2 separate regions of the Homo sapiens genome follow, and region 1 is linked to region 2. The links come from fine-mapping of genetic effects on gene expression. A gene starts in region 2. The other region holds a variant in brackets. All regions are shown on one strand. Distances are from middle to middle.

What was found. PIP is the estimated chance that this variant, and not a neighbour inherited with it, causes the effect. A credible set is the group of variants that fine-mapping cannot tell apart.
Region 1: its variant is the best candidate, but not a certain one, in a credible set for the expression of DAP in whole blood (INTERVAL, PIP 0.75).

Annotation. Positions count from the first base shown.
Region 1 is chr5:10,789,336-10,797,666 of GRCh38, forward strand. No RefSeq gene overlaps it. Among named protein-coding and RNA genes, the nearest start is that of CTD-2154B17.1, 6.5 kb to the left of the region's middle. The variant C/T (reference allele first, on the strand shown) is at 5,098.
Region 2 is chr5:10,756,237-10,764,567 of GRCh38, forward strand. It overlaps DAP (death associated protein), which reads right to left and starts at 4,998. Exons shown (of 4, transcript NM_004394.3): 1 at 4,778-4,998. The coding sequence starts at 4,832. DAP-DT (DAP divergent transcript) reads left to right here and starts at 4,800. Exons shown (of 3, transcript NR_187555.1): 1 at 4,800-4,980. RefSeq lists silencers at 418-507, 4,554-4,983, 5,064-5,533 and enhancers at 728-807, 5,056-5,901.

The sequences.
Region 1 (8,331 bases), 33 kb after region 2:
GTATTGGGGTTTAGAAATGTGAGCACCAGGATGCTGAAAACATGAGCACCAGGATGCTGAAAACATTGAAAAGAGTCCAGGCAAAAGCAGGGCAGTTACTAGAGAACAGAAGTCTCAACTTGTGAAGAATTCAGTGTGAAACACATGCGCTTTGGCCACCAGGAAATTATACTTGTTTGCCCAAGTTTTTTCCAAGAGGAAGATGCTTCAGGGATATGTAACACGCTCTTGTGGAAAGAATGCTGGTTTATAGGCCTCTGCACAGGGACTCCCCTAAACCTCTACCCCAAGTCTGGATGAAGAAAACAGTGAGAGGTGCACCAGATGAGGAGCCAAAGCTTTTCACAAGAACCAAATAATGTTTTACCAGTTAGGGTGCTTTTGGCTGTAAGTAATAGACCAGATAACAAAGAAGCTAAGGTCATTTATTATTTCCTTCACAAGAAGTTCAGAGATAGGCCAGTACCAGGCTTGGTTAACTCAGCAGTGCAACAAAATCCTCTAAAACTCAATTCCTCCCCCCTTCTCTCTCTGCGATCCTCGTGGGCTTGATTTATCCTTTTAGGGTTGGCTTCCCTCATGATGCAGAGATGGCTATGACAATTCCAGGCATGCCATGTAGATGACAACATCTCTGTCCCTTTTTAAGAGTAAGGGATAATTTCCCAGAGGTTCCCCAGCAGATTCTTACTTCCACTGCCCTTGACCATGACTGTGATCTCTTTCCAAGCTGTATTAGTCCGGGTTCTCCTGAGAAACAGAACTAATAGGAGATAGATATATTTATGTACATACACTCAAGTGTGTATGTGTTTGTGTGTGTGTGTATATATATAAAATAAAGAATTGGCTTACATGATTATGGAGGCTGAAATGTCCCCAGATCTGCAGTGCAAAGGCCTGAGATTCAGGAGAGCTAATGATGTTAAGTTCTAGCATGAGTCCAAAGCAGAAGAGAGACGTCCCAGCCCAAAGTCAGGCAGGCAGAGAGAGCAAATTCTCTCTTGCTCAGCCTTTTGTTCTAATCAGGCCTTCAACAGATTGGATGAGGCCCATCCACATTGGGGAGGGCAATCTGCTTCACTCAGTCTACCAATTCCCATGCTAATCTCACCTGGAAACACCATCACAGACTCACCCAGAAATAAAGTTTACCCAAATATCCAGATGCCTCATGGCACAGTCAAGTTGACACAACAGTAACCATCACACAATCTTAAACTAGCCACCAACAAGGGGAGTAAAATGACTATGAATGGCCGAGACCAATCCCAATTCACTCTAGGGCTAGAGGGGGAGCTCAGCCCCCAGAAGCTCAAGGCCTTCCAGTCCCTGGACACAGCTGGGGTTCTGTTGGCAAGTAATAGGGGGAAGAGCTGTGGGGCAGTGACCAAGAATGGCTGCACCCTCTGCTCCATGTAACTCACCGAGGAGGTCCCCAAAATGTAATGCATGACAGGATGTTAGCTAACACTTGCTGGGCACGTACTCTGCACTAGGTGTGGTACTAAGCACTTGGTAGGTGTCATCTCATTCAATCAGTTTAACAACCTGAAGCTCCTTGTGTTGGGCTTTGTTGGGAGGTGAGATGGACCTTAATAACTGAATCTTCCTGGAAGAGCCCAGGGTTAATCCTCTTAATATCAAATTGCTCTCCATAAATAACTGCTTTGCTGTGGTTCTTGTGAATTCCTTCTTCTTTTCTTTCTAGTAGTTGACTTCACTTTAGACAACTGCAATTTCTACTCTGGCATGATTTCTCAGAGGCGGTCCTCAACAAACATGCCTGGGGTCAGGGAGAGAGTCCAGTGATATGAAAAACTAGCCCAGAATGGAAAACTCCTTGAAGTTCTGCAATTATATATTATTTTTTATTTTGTTTTTGATTTTTTGAATTGAATTTGATTTGTTGAATAAATTAATTCAAGCAATACAAAAGTACTGTTGAGAGCAAGTGTGCCTCCCACCTTAGTCCCTGCCCAAATCAGCTCTCCCATGGATCCATTCATCCTTCCCTTCCTAGTTATTGATAAACTATTGTTACGCAAAGGTCTGTGCCAGGTTCAAGCTGACTCGTGGAGTTCCAATGGAGTTATCTTTAGTTCTTCCCTCCCACACAGGAAGCACCCATCAGGTGCCAAGTCCTAAACATCCATCTTGACAAAATCTCTGAAGTCCTCATTCCCTGTTTGTTTATTGTTTCTCCTTGGACTCATTCTGCCAGCCTCCAGTGGCCTCCATGACAACATTGCCTCCTTCTCTGTTGTCTCCGTCTTCTTTAAGTGCATTTTTTATAAAGATACACTACGTTATAGGTGGAATACTGTGTCGCTCCAAATGCACACGTTGATGTTCTAACCCAGTAACTCAGAATGTCACTGTAGTTGCAGGTAGGGTCTTTAAAGAGGCAATTAAATTTAAGTGAGGTCTTTGAGGTGAGCCCTAATCCAATCTGACCGGTGTCCTTAATAGTAAGAGGTGATTAGGACACAGACACACACAGGGATAGACCATGTGAAGACACAGGGAGAAGACGGCTATCTACAAGCTGAGGACTGAGGCCTCAGAAGAAACAAGACCTAGTGACGCTTTGATATTAGACTTCCAGCCTCCAGAACTGTGAGAACATAAATTTGTGTTTGAGCCACACGGTGTGTGGCACTTTGTTATGGAAGGCCTCGCGGGCAAACACAGACTACGTACAATCCAGCCACTCACTTGCTGAAAGCTCTGTAGTGGCTTCTGGCTGTTTAACAGTGAGGCAGCACTGGCCCACCTCTCAGGGCCCTTCTGATCTGGCGTGGACCTGCCTCTACTGTCCCGCTTGCTTACCATCCATGCTCTGGGCTTCAGCTCACACTGGGCTGATTCCCATCCAGGGAACACGGCTGTGCTTCCTTGCCTTTCGCCTTTGCACAGGCTGTTCCCTCTGCAAAAAACATATTTGCATTTCCCATCACGCCCCTCCCATTTCTACCTGTTGAAATCACGTCCATCACTCAAACCCAGCCACAGTGCCATCTCCTTTAGAAAGGCATATGCTTTCCTAAAGCCACAATCTAGTTGGGTCCCTCCTTTTCACCTCCCTCATTGTTACAGGTAGTCAGACAGCATGAGCAGGGCAGAAGAGGGCTCTCCCATCCACTAGGAAGGTTGGGTAATGGTTCAGCAACGATCACAATGCCTCTCTAAAAATGGTAAATTGGCAGCCAGTGCCAGGGAGAGGCCATTTCCTGCTGGCCCACACCTGTTGCACTAAAGTGTTCACTGAATGCAGACACCAGGGAGAAGCAACTTCCTGAGCATATACATAAAGAGACAAAATGGCAGAGTATGACCTTCCAAGGGCACCCCACAGGAAAGGGAAGAAAGCCTCAGATGGGCATGTGCACAGCTTCCTAAACACACTGTGGGTGCTCACTTCCCAAGGGTAAGGGGAGCACTGTGTATGTGGGCAGCCCAGCCTAACGGAAGAATCGTGGAAAAGGGGCAGCCTATAAGGCCCTAGCATCAAGGTTAAACACCGCACTTGTTCTTCAAGTCACCCGCTTGGGTTTCTTCCAAGCCTACTTTCCTTTCTTTCCTGTTCTAAAGTCTTTTAAAATAAACTTACACTCCTGCTCCAAAACTTCCTTGGTCTCTTTTTCTACCTTATGCCTCTCAGTCAAATTCTTTCTTCTTTTTTTTTTTTTTTTTAGATGGAGTCTTGCTCTGTCTTCAGGCTGGGGTGCAGTGACGTGATCTCGGCTCACTGCAACCTCTGCCTCCCGGGTTCAAGCAATTCTCCTGCCTCAGCCTCCTGAGTACCTGGGACTATAGGCATGTGCCACCACGTCCAGCTAATTTTTGTATTTTTAGTAGAGATGGGGTTTCACCACGTTGGTGAGAATGGTCTTGGTCTCCTGACCTCATGATCCACCTGCTTGGGCCTCCCAAAGTGCTGGGATTACAGGTGTGAGCGACCGTGCCCGGCTAAATTCTTTCTTCTGTGGAGGCAAGAATTGAGGTTGCTGCAGGCCCATATGGATTCGCCAGTAACTCAGACATCTTCCACCAGGGTAACACCATCATCATTTGTAAAAGTCTCATGCCGGGATCAGACCTGCCCCGTATTCTATTCAGGTGTGCACTCAGTTGCCTTCCTATTTGACTTGCTCACCTTTCAGCGTGTCATCTAGGAGGACTAGACAAGTAGCACATTTTCACAAACACGAATGGAATGAACATGACAGGCCAGATTGGAAAATAGGATCAAAAATAAGTCAAAAAATGAAAATTATGTCTATGGAAAAAAAGAAATAGGAAACACGACTCAAATTGTGTCAACCCTAGGATGACCTGCAGGAAGTTGAAACCCTGGGTGGGAGAAGTACTGAATAGAAGAGAGAATGCTGCTCCCCTGACACTGCAGCTATATCGGAAAATACATTCTAAGTCTACTTAAGATAGAATTCCGGTTGAATATTCTGAAATGTGTTCTTACATGGAAGACATTTGACCCCTGGAGACAACTCAACAGAAGCTTTGCCTTGGAAAGCTGGTTGGATGGAGAGGTTTTGTGAGGTCTTTTTACTCTGGAATCTGAGATGCCTGGTGGAACTTGAGCAGCACTGTTCAGCAGGGGGCAGGCCACCAAGAGCACACATATACCCTTAAAAACCATCTGCTCTGCAAACATGCAGAAATCATTAATACATTGCAAGCGTGGTTTTGCCCAGACCTGCTGCAAAATGATCACAGGCAAAGTGGTTTGCGTACTCTCCCCCTCACTGATGGCTCTTTGGGCCGTCAGTTGAACAAGGAACCCACACGGAGCTAAAATGTACAAACGACAAATAAAATGTTGCCTCTCTCTCCAGACTCTCACAAAATCAGGAAAAACAAAAAAAACCTTTCTTTCCATTTCTGCAAGAAAGAAATGAGAGCTAAAACTGTTAGCCATGTGAAATCTAGTGGGGAAACCTGTTTTTTTTTTCCTATGAGTCTTAAAGCAGCAATAATTTGTTTTCCTTTCTTTTCCTTTCTTTTTTCTCCCCTCTGCCACATTAGAGAGGCTTGCTGACAAAGACTTGAGTAGGTTCTATAAGGAGCCCCAGG[C/T]ATCCCCAGATGTGGTGCACATTGAGATGGATGGAGAAGTTGTGTATGGCGGAGGAAACTAGGAGTGCCGCAGGATAGAAATCCACTGGGAGTAAGACGGGTTGGTGTCCCTCTGGAATCCGTGTTGCTGCCACTGCTCGGTAGAGAAGGGTGGGTGGAGTCATGTCCCTGGAACCTGCCTGACAGTGTTGCCAGTTCTCCTGCTTCACTTCTGGGGCTGCCCCCGTGTCCCTGATGTCAAAGCCATGAAGTTACTTCTGGGAGGGGAGAAATCAAGCTGGAGACCCTGAGACAGGGGTGAAATCAGAACCTGCTGCGCTGGTGGAATTTGGCAGATGCCTCCATGCTGTGAAGGGGCCATGGGCACCGAAAGGTCTCCCCACCCCTGCACCCTCTCACTCTGATGCCAAGGGCCTTTAGTTCCCCAGAAGCAGAACTGGAGCTGGGGAAGACTACATGAGGGATTCATGAAGCCAGAATTCTTAGGAGGAGGAGGGATCAGGAAGACACACGGTGGAAGGCACGGGGCTAGGTGGGGATGTGGCCTCTGCTGGAGACCAACTTCTGCCGGATCCCATGGCAGCTCCATCGGGTCCCTTTTGAGGTGAGGACATTGGCCTTTTGTATCTCTATGTTTTGTCTTTGACCACTGGCCATGGTGATGGTGTTGGGTGACTGACAAGGTAGCTCTGTGCTGGGCTGCACTTCCTTCCGCTGAAAGTCATTAGGATGCCTCGCGGCTCCTTGTGAGGTTGGACATGGCGGATGAGCACTGAAGGTGGCAGGATGCTTCAGTACAGAGACAGATGGTAGATGTTCTGGCTTTTCAGGCCACCTGATATGGTTAGGCTTTGTGCCCCCACTCAAATCTCATCTGGAATTGTAATCCCCATAATGCCCATGTGTTCAGAGAGAGACCAGGTGGAGGTAATTGAATCATGAGAGTGGTTCCCCCATGCTGTTCTCATGATGGTGAGTTCTCACGAGAGTTGATGGTTTTATAAGGGGCTCTTCCCTGCTTAACTAGGCATTCTCCTTCCTGCCACCTCGTGAAGAAGGTGCCTTGCATCCCTGTTGCCTTCCACCATGATTGTAAGTTTCCTGAGGCCTCCCTAGCCATGCAGAACTGTGAGTCAATTAAACCTCTTCTCTTTATTAATTACCTAGTCTCGGGCAGTTCTTATAGCAGTGTGAGAATGGACCAATACACCACCTGTGGTCTCTGTTGTATATTCTTTTTTGTTTTATTTCACCACTCTTTATAGAAACTCCATCATTGGCCTGAGAGCCACACAGAAACAATCCCTGATTGACTAAATCCATTAATTCATAAGGGATTGCAAAATGGTGATGGCCTAACTCTTCACGCTTCATTCACTAGCTGAATTATTTCTATAAAGAAAAAGATTCTGCCAGTCACCTATTTAATACCCTGAGGGACAGTTCATTTAGGAAAGACACGATAAATGCTTGGATTTTTCTGTTTACTTACTATCTTAGCCCATTCCAGGCTGCTATAACAATACACATGAGACTGGGTGATTGATAAAGAACACACACTCATTTCTCACCATTTTGGAGGCTGGAAGTCCAGGATCAAGGCACCTAGAGTTTTGTTGTTTGATGAGGGCCTGTTCTCTGCTTCCAAGATAGAGCCTTGTTGCCAGAGGTGATCAATACTGTATTCTCATGTGGCAGGAGAGATGGAGGGGCCAAAGGCCTGGCTAGTTCCCCAGAGCCCTTTCATAAGGGTTCTAATCCCATTCATGAAGGCAGAGCCCTCACAATCTAACCACCTCCCAAAGGCCAACCTCTTAATACTGTTATCACACTGGGTCTTAGGTTCCCATGTATGCATTTTTGGGGATACATACATTCAGATCATAGCATGTACTGATTTTAATAATAATGAGTTTGTTTCTAGACATTCTCCAGAGATAATCAAGATTTTTTTTTTTTCCTCTTAGTATAATTGTGAACTTAGGGATGTAAGCATATTGACAGGTTCAGGATCAAATTTGCCATCTTTGGGCAGTTTGGCCTCTGAATATTTTTCAACAGTTTTATTGAGATATATAATTCACATACAGTACAAACACCCATTTAAAGGGCACAATTCAATGGTTTTTAGTATATTCACAGAGTTGCACAACCATCACCACAATTAATTTTAGAACATTTTTGTCATCCCCGAAAGAAACCCTGTACCCACCAGCAGTCATTCTCCATTTCCCTCCACCTACCTCTTCCATCCCTGTACCCCACCCCCAGACCTAGGCAACCACTAATCCACTTTCTAGACGAGACTGTTCTGGACAATTCATATACACTGAATGATATAATAGGCGGTCTTTTGTGACTGGCTGCTTTCATTTAGTAAAATGTTTTCAAGGGTCCTCTACATTGTAGCATGTATCAATATTTCATTTCTTCTAATTGCCAATTAATATTCCATTCTGTGGATGTACCACTTTGTATTTATCCATCCATTGGTTGATGGACATTTGGTTGTTTCCTCTTGGCTTCTGAGTCTTTTTGATAGCTCCCTAGCAGTCTTTGGCAGCTTCCTTCCTTTCTAGCATAATACGAAGTTCCAGACTCTTCTTATATATGTCTACCGCAGGCTTGGGAAAACTCACTCTCCAAGGAGCACATATTCGTTTTAATGGGAAATGCAATGTCAAGATAAAACCTGGGTGCTAGGGATGTTTATTGTTACTGGGCTGGTCATTGATTCTAGGACTTGCAACAGACAGAGACAAAACATTTTTTTGGTTGTTTACTTGTTTGTTTATTTGCTGTTTAAGATAAACTTTACCTGGTGAATGTCCTGAAGCTTCCAGTTCAAAGTTAGGACCACAGAGTTTTTACTTAGCTTCATCAATATTACAATTGTATTTTTTTCTATGCTAAAATGTCAGATTCTCAGTGACACCAAAGTAATGACTCATTTGCATTATCCCATAAGACACGCAGACACAAGTTTCATGTCGCAATATCAAAACTTGTGGGAGCAATGTATTTACTGAAAACAGTTTAAAATTTGTTCAAAGTTATTTTTGCCTTACAGATTTGTCACTGGAGATGTACAGTTGGAAATGTATTTTAACGGCATTTGGAATAGTTCCTCTTTGTGGTTATGCTATCAACTGGTTGCCACTTAAGTTCATTTAGTTCACTTTATTTTTGATTTTTAGAGATTGATTTTATAGAAATTAATTTTGTTTTCTAATT
Region 2 (8,331 bases):
TTTCCTTGGCATGTTGGGAACAAGGGCAGACCTCTTACCTGGACCATTCAATTTCTGGTCCTGACTGGTTGACACTGGGACTATGCTTAGCAAATCTGTGACCACAGGGTTAATAGAAGACAAATTAGTCTTCTGTTTCTAGCAATGGATAATCTGAAAGTCTTTCTGCAGGGAGATAATTCAGGGAGAATTACACTAGACTTTTGAAAGGCATCCTTAACTCATGTCTGACGTATCAATTAGTGTAAGAGAGAACTAAGTTACTCTGAAGTTACTAAAAAAAGTAACATGGCTTGAAATAAATATAATCGTGCTTATATTTCCATTTAATTCACTTTGAGAGGGGATGTAGAGTCTGCTTTTCAAAGAAAACCACATGTAAGATTAGTAACATTCAAAGCTATCATGTAGCAGATTTATGAGAACTCTACTGACACATGGTTTTGGCTCCACTGGGAAATGGAGGGGAACAGGGCCAGCAAAATGTATTTAACAAAGAGATTTTACACATCTCACTGCCACAGACTCACAAAGACTGGCAGAAATGAGTAATAGCGAGGCTTATAATTAGGTCCTCTTTTCTGCTGTGGAATGCTATGACTGCTGTTAGATGAAACAGAAAGAATCTCGCTAATTCTAACTCTGCTAATCTGCATTTGCAATAACTCATCAAACAAGCACTCACCCCATTTCTCTGCAAATATTTTGTAGTCAAGAGCAGTGGTAAGGTCTCAAATCATTAAGGCTGGATTACTTCTACAGAGGACTGCAGACGACAGCACATTTGCCAGGACATGATGCAGTGCCATCCATCACTTGTAAATAACAATACCTGTATTTGCACAGCACCTTTCTCTAACACTCTTCAGAAGCCTTTACAAACTGCCTCATTCGTCTCCCACCTTGGGAGGAGGCACCTGGCCAGTGATGGAGTCGTCTGTCGGGCTGCTGAAGTTCCAAAAGGCAACAGCCTTTCCGGCCGCTCCCACTAGGTCACTAGCTCAGGGGAGTTGGCAACAGACACTCCAAACAATTGGGTCAGGTTTTTTTTTTTTAGACGAAATATTCGCTCTTCTTGCCCAGGCTGGAGTCCAGTGGTGTGATCCTGGCTCACCACAACCTCTGCCTCCCAGGTTCAAGCGATTTTCCTGCCTCAGCCTACAGAGTAGCTGAGATTACAGGCACCCACCAGCACACCCGACTAATTTTGTATTTTTGGTAGAGACGGGGTTTCACCATGTTGGCCAGGCTAGTCTTGAACTCCTGAGCTCAGGTGCTCTCCCCACCTGGGTCTCCCAAAGTGCTGGGATTATAGGCGTGAGCCACGACACCCGGCTCTGGGTCAGGTTTTTAAACGGCACTGTCCTCGGTATCTCAATGTTAAGATGACTGGTGATTTCATGAGTTAAACGTGCCAAGCGCTTAGAAGTGTGTCAGCACATTGTGACACTCAACAAACTTCATTAGTGTTTCCACCAGTCTGCTGCCTGAACCGGCCAAGAGGACCACCTGCATCCCTGCGCACAGTACAGAGAGCTCAGAGTTGAGGAAGGTGTGGGCCCGGTTTGCTATGGGGGCAGTGAGGGGTGAGAAGAGGCCCTGGGGAAACTCTGGAGTGCTTATTGAGTATTTTGTGCCACCCCGGGAATAAAGAGATCAAGAAGACCCAGCCCTGGAAGCAAGAAGACAGGCAGAGAGGCGAAGGTTAGTGCACGAAGGAAAACAAGGGGATTGCGGGGAATGTACAGGAGATATGGGCCAGACAGCAACAAAGAGAAGACACAAAAGAACATTAAGATAGTCACTGTAAGAGAATTTTATTATTTCTGATTGAGCATTGAGGCACAAGTCTGTTATCCAATTTAAGCACTTAATGAAAGCATTCTCAACATTTTTAAGGCAGTGATTTTGATTTATGAACTGTGCTCTTGGCTATCCTTGATGATTATCCTTTAGTGTAGTGGGCCGCCTTTTTTTTTTTTTTTTAAAAACTATCTACCCTTCAGAGCTGCCTACTCTCTGGCAATGCCAGACTAAACAAGAACACCAGAGCTTCCTGCCAGAAAAGGTTCACACATGGTCCTCTGTAACATCTAGGAAAGCGCATTTGAGGGGTGCTGTTGGCATCTGAGGGGTGCTGTTGGCATTTGAGGGGTGCTGTTGGCATTTGAGGGGTGCTGTTGGCATTTGAGGGATGCTGCTGGCATTTGAGGGGTGCTGCTATTGGGCCCCTCCTCTAACTATGGTCTTGGAGACAGATGACAGATGGTGACAGCCACCCGCAAGAGCTCACCCCGTAAGTCTAAAGGGGTTGCCCTGAAGTTACTAGAGGAGTTTACCTGGGGGATGAACAGTGCTGGTACCCTGATGCTGAAGCGGGACGTGAGACTCACTGCAGCAAACACAGCCCCACCCTGTGACTTGCCCCGAGGCCCAAACCTCGAATTTCATAAAGGAGAAAAACTGAGCCCCAGTGAAGCGTGAAGTGATGTCTTCAAACTTAGAACCCAAGCTCACTGCTACACTAGCACAAATAAGCTGCCTCTTCCCTCCTCAGGGGTAAATAAACTACTTACTCTGTAATTCACAAAGCCTAGCTGTTTACTCTGCAATTCAAAGAAAACCAGAGTCCAGCAAGGAATTTCTCCCAGGGAGTGAGTATGTACAGTTTATACCTCTGACCTTAAAAATCTCCATATGGGCACTTTGGAAGGCTGAGGTGGGTGGATCACCTGAAGTCAGGAGTTCAAGACCAGCCTGGCCAACATGGCAAAATCCGGTCTCTACTAAAAATACAAAAATCAGCCAGGTGTGGTGGCAGGCACCTGTAAACCCAGCTACTCGGGAGGCTGAGGCAGGAGAATCTCTTGAACCTAGAAGGCGGAGGTTGCAGTGAGCCAAGATCGTGCCACTGCACTCCCAGGTGACAGAGTGAGACTCTGTTTCAAAAAACAAAACAAAAAACTTCTTTATGGGTGTGTCTCTGTATGCAATTTAATTACTGTACTTTGGTTCTGTATCATTCCAACAGATACGCTTTAATGTAACCCATGTCCTGGGGAGTGGAGGGCCAGAGCAGGTGGCTGCTGCAGTTCCTGGAGGCAGCCCTGCCCGGGGTGGAAATCAAGGCGCTCCTCCCCACAGTGGACAGGGACCCGCTGTGGTGGAATGGAAGTCAGTTATCCTTAAAAGAAATCCCATCAAAAAAAAAACTCCCTTTGAAGTACTTTTTTTCTTAAAACCAATGCAACACAAATTCCCCCAAAACCATTTTCCATCACAGTGGAATGATTTTCTAAAACCCCATGCCTCTTAAGTTCTCTGGCATCAGTTAGACATTTTTCTTTCCCAGTGCCAGTTAGTTTTGTTGTAGAGAGCCTCCGTCACCACTGAAAAATATTGCCTACTCTGGACTGCAACATATTTAAAGAACGGCTCCTATTCATTGTGCTGGTGCAGAGAATTCCCGCCCTATAGCGGAGGACAGCAGAGAAGGATAATGGGAATCTTTTTTTTTTTTTTTTTTTTTTTTGAGATGGAGTCTCGCTCGCTTTGTCGCCAAGGCTGGAGTGCTTTGGCTCAATCTTGGCTCACTACAACTTCTGCCTCCCGGGTTCAAGCCATTCTCCTGCCTCGGCCTCCTGAATAGCTGGGATTACAGGCGCCCGCCACCATGCCCAGCTAATTTTTCTACTTTTAGTAGAGATGGGGTTTCACCATGTTATCCAGGCTAGTCTTGAACTCCTGACCTCAAGTGATCCACCCTCCTTGGCCTCCCAAACTGCTGGGGTTACAGGCATGAGCCACCGCGCCTGGCCAGGAATCTTTATTGTCAAGAAAATGGCGCAAATGTGCCACCAAAAGAAGCCATGTTTCTCAAAGACTTCTGTTCCTACAAGACTGAGTTTATGACACTAAGGCGTGCTATTAAGACCTAAAAGAACCTCACGCATCCATACATTGAAGTGACTTGGCTTCTGAGACCCAAGGCCTTTGATCTTCTCACCAGTGTCCCTCCATATGGGCCGACTGCCACTGGAAAGGAGAGTAGAAACGGAAACAGACCCGTCTGGACAGAATCCAAAGTGCAAACAGGAACTGTGCCCAGAGAGAGGAGGAGGTGGCAGAAGCATGAAGGCTGCTTAGATCCCTATGTTCTAAGAAAGACCGCTCTTTCCTGGCTTTAACTTCCTTGGCTCAGAAGTTTAGGATTTGCTCAAAATCAGAAAAAGCAACTTTGGGGGAAAAAAAAAATCTGGATGTGGAAGAAACTGGCGGTGAAAGTCATATTGAGTGATTAATGATAAAAATTATTTCCGCTCCTTGGTTCTTGAGTCGGTATGAAACGCTGGCAGCCTCTAATTAATCATCACCATGATATTAACACCACTGACTTTTCATTGCTTCTGCTACTTTCTTTCTAGACATCTGTATCCTCTAAGTAAATATTATCCGCCAAAACTTTGTTATAAGTTGTGCAACTGGGTTCGCCCAAGGCACCGGAGCCTGCGCGCAATCGCACAGGTACGCGGCCGCCCGCGGTCCTCAGGAAGAAACGCTTCGCCGCCGCCGGCAAGCGGGGCCGAAGCTCCGGCGGGCTCCTCCCGGGCCTGGGCGCCCGACCTCTCCGCGGCCCGCGCCCCTCGGGCGGGCATCAAGGCCCGGAACCCGTCTCAGCGCTCGCCGGGGCCCTCCCCGCGGAGCCCCCGCCCGGCGCCCCCGGGTTCGAGCCCGCCCCCGGCACCCGCGCGTGGAGAGAGAGGAAAAGAGTCAGTACCGGCGGGCGGGTGTCCAGCTTTAGTCTCTAGTTTCCCTTCGGGAGGCGAAGACATGACGCGGCGGGGCTTCCGCGGGGCCGAGGCGGCGGCGCGGTTCTCGGGCCGGGCGGGCGTGCGCGAGTGAGCTCAGGTGTGAGCGCCGGGGAGCGAGCGGGCGGGAGAACGACGCGCGCGCGTGGGGCGCCGGGGCCGCGCGAGCCGGGTGAGTGCCACTGCCGTTAAGGGGGCGCGGCCGCCGCGCGCCGACGTGGCGCAGCCGAGCCCACCGACGGCATGCGCACTGACGTCACCGCGGCCCGCCCGCCCTGCTGGGCCGCGAGCCAAGCATACGGTGCGTGCGCAGCCGGCCGCGCCACGTCGGATGCTGTGGCCGGGGGCGGGGGCGGGGGCGGGGGCGGGGGCGGAGGAGGGAGGGGAGAGAAGGGGTGAAGAAGTGAGAGGGAGAAGGAAGGAGAGGGAGGCGGGGTCCCCGACTGGCTGCGGGGACTGGAGTTGCGGAAAGTTAAGTAGGGCCCAGCTGAGGATGGCTCCTGCAGCGAACGCGCTCAGCCGGGCTCCTGGCTACGCGGCGACGGCTGGGTGACTGCGCCCCACAGTGCGGGCCAGGGCCGGGGCGTCCCGGCAGGGAGGCGACCGTCCCCTGAGGCCCTCAGCCCCTGCCGCGGCAGCGCCTAATGAAGCGCGGAAAGGAGAGCCCAGATGGCAGCGACGGGGGCCGAGAGAGCAGGAATTTGTTAAAAGACGATGCGAGGGGAGAGCCTGCTTTCCGAGTGAGGGCCAGCGCTGGGGAGCAGAGACGGTGGCTTCTGTCCCTGCCCTCCTCGTTATGAACCAAAAATAAAATTCTAAGCCCTGCAGCCAACGGATGGACCCTCCCCTCCGCCTGTGGCCTTCTAAGTTATCTTGAAAAACTAGTTCAGGCCTTGATGGGAAGCGGAAGTCAAACATGGCCTCACAAACATCCGCACGGAGACCCTAAGACTAATAGAGGACTCTGATAAGAAACATTTGCAGTGTATTCCCGGCTTCATCTGCATGATAACACCTTGGTCTCCACAACTCCTTCATGCAACCCGGACATTCCCTTCTACTGAGTCCAGGTCTTTAGATGATAACTCTCAACCAGTTGCCAATCAGAAAACCTTTAAATGTACCTATGACCCGGACGCCTCCACTTCACATTTTACCTCCTAAAGAGCCAACCTACATCTTACGTATTGATTGATGTCTCATGTCTCCCTCAAATGTATAAAACCAAGATGTTTCCTGGCCACCCTGGGCACATGTCATCAGAACCTCCTGAGGTTGTGTCAATGCACGTCCTTAACCTTGGCAAAATAAACTTCCTAAATTGAGACCACTCTCAGAAACTTTTGGTTTTCACCATCATCTTCCTGTTGCCGTGGCTGACCCCTGGCTCTCGTGCCTTGGATCGTGTTCTTCCCGCCTGCCCCAGTGTTTTGCAACTGCTGTTAACTTCCGCAATGCCTTGCTGGATTCGCATTCAGACAGGCCTAATCTCTTTAGCGAAGGAAACACCACCCCTCGCTTGGCTGTACTTTTCCCTTTGACAACAAAACTGTTCAGGGAGGCTGAGCTCCTCATCTCTTGTCACTCCCTCCAGTCCAGTTTGTCTGGTTTTCATCAAGTTCTGCTGCACTGCCCTCAACCATGGGAGGTCCTTTTGTGGAAGTCACTTATAACCTATGTGCTGCCAGATCCAATGGTCATTTTCTACTTTCATTCTATTTGAGCTCTTAGCAGCACTTGATGCAGCTGGCCGTCCCCCTCCTCCTTTGCTCCGGAGGTGCCACATCACTGCCTTACCCTCCAGTTCTCTGGCCACCCTGGCTGCTCACTCTGTCAGCTTGGCAGTTCGCCCTCTTCTAGATTTATAAACATTTGAGTATCGCAAGGCTCAGCATTGGCCTTCTTCTCTATCTAGACTTCCCATAGATAGTCACATGCAGCCTGTGGACGACTATCATGCAGATGCTTACAGGTGCCAAATCTGCAACCTCATTTCTCTATTTCTGCTCCTCCCCTGAACTCCAGACTCACCACCACCACCACCTGCAGACGCTTATGGGTGCCACATCTGCAACTTAATTTCTCTCTTTCTGCCCCTCCACTGAACTCCAAACTCACCACCGCCACCTTGGCTTCTCTATTTGTTGTCTAACTCAGTGCTGCGCAACTCTGTGCATCAGGGCACACATGGAGATGCACATAGCATACATTGGTCTTGCATTCCCCACTCCATACACACATTTCAACACCGGTAATAGGATAATTGTTGGCCAGGCTGCAGTCATGATATGCTTGCCATTGTCTTGCATTCACATCCAAACTTCCAAGTGGGTGCCAGCAGTTTAGAAGAGAATCCTGAAATTAATACTGGGTTACTCTTTAAAGAGATAGCACATCACTCACGTTCTTAAAGGTTTAAGGATACCTAACTGATTAATTTCATGAGTAACTTCCTTTTTATGTATGTGCAAAAGTGCTATATAGTTAAAAACTTATGTCGTATGTCTTAAGCCTAAAGAATTATTTCTTGGAAGTATAAAATGAAAATTTTAAGTTGAAAGAGCACATTGTGGTATCATTTAATTGGTAGTGTTTTTACCCTTAGTGGTACCTAAAACAAAGTTGCATGTTACGAGCCACAGCATCTTAGACTCAATAACAAATGCTATTGGTAAGGAACCCTGGGGGGTGGGGGAGAAAGCCTTCACAGGAAGGAGCAGAGCTCCAGAGGGGCCCTGGTGGCCCCTGGACTGCCCTGAGGTCTGACAGGTTGTGTCTCTTTGCCTGTGACCTGTTCTCCAGGTTTGTACTGATTGGGAAACTCTGGTTGTCTTACAGTAGGTAGCTAGTCGGCCTGAGCAGGGCAGGAGAGGACTCTTCCCCCACAACCCACACCACCAGAAATGTTGTGTGACCATCAGGTGATGGTCAGGAAGTTGTTACACTGTTTCTCTAAAATAATAATTGGTTGCAGTCAGTGCCAGGGAAAGGCAGTCTCCCAGTAGATAGAAAAAACCTGAAAGTGGTGGTCAGCAGCTTCCTGGTAAGATCTCTTTGCCACACATCGAGAGGCAAAATGGCAACGTTTGACTGGTATATGACCTTCTAGGAACATGAGGCTGGTAAGGGAAGATTGCCTCAAGTGAGCATGTGTACACTTCCAATAAACACACTGCCCCTGCTCACTTTCCAAGCGCTGGCAAGTCACTGTGCATGTGGACAGCCTACCCCAAGGGAAGAATCAGGGGATAAGACTGATCCCTGAAGAATCAAGGGATGCAAGACTCCAGAAGTATGCCAATGTATAAAACCCTAAGTCAAAGGTCAAACCGTGCACTTGATCTCTAAAGTTACCTGCTTGGCCATCTTCCAAGTGTACTTTCCTTTTGTTCCAGATCTAAAGCTTTTTAATAAACTTTCACTCCTCCTTTAAAGTTGCCTCAGTCTCTCTTTCTGCTTTATACCCCTCAGTTGAATTCTTCCTTCTGAAGAGGCAAGAATTGAGGTTGCTGCAGACCTGTAC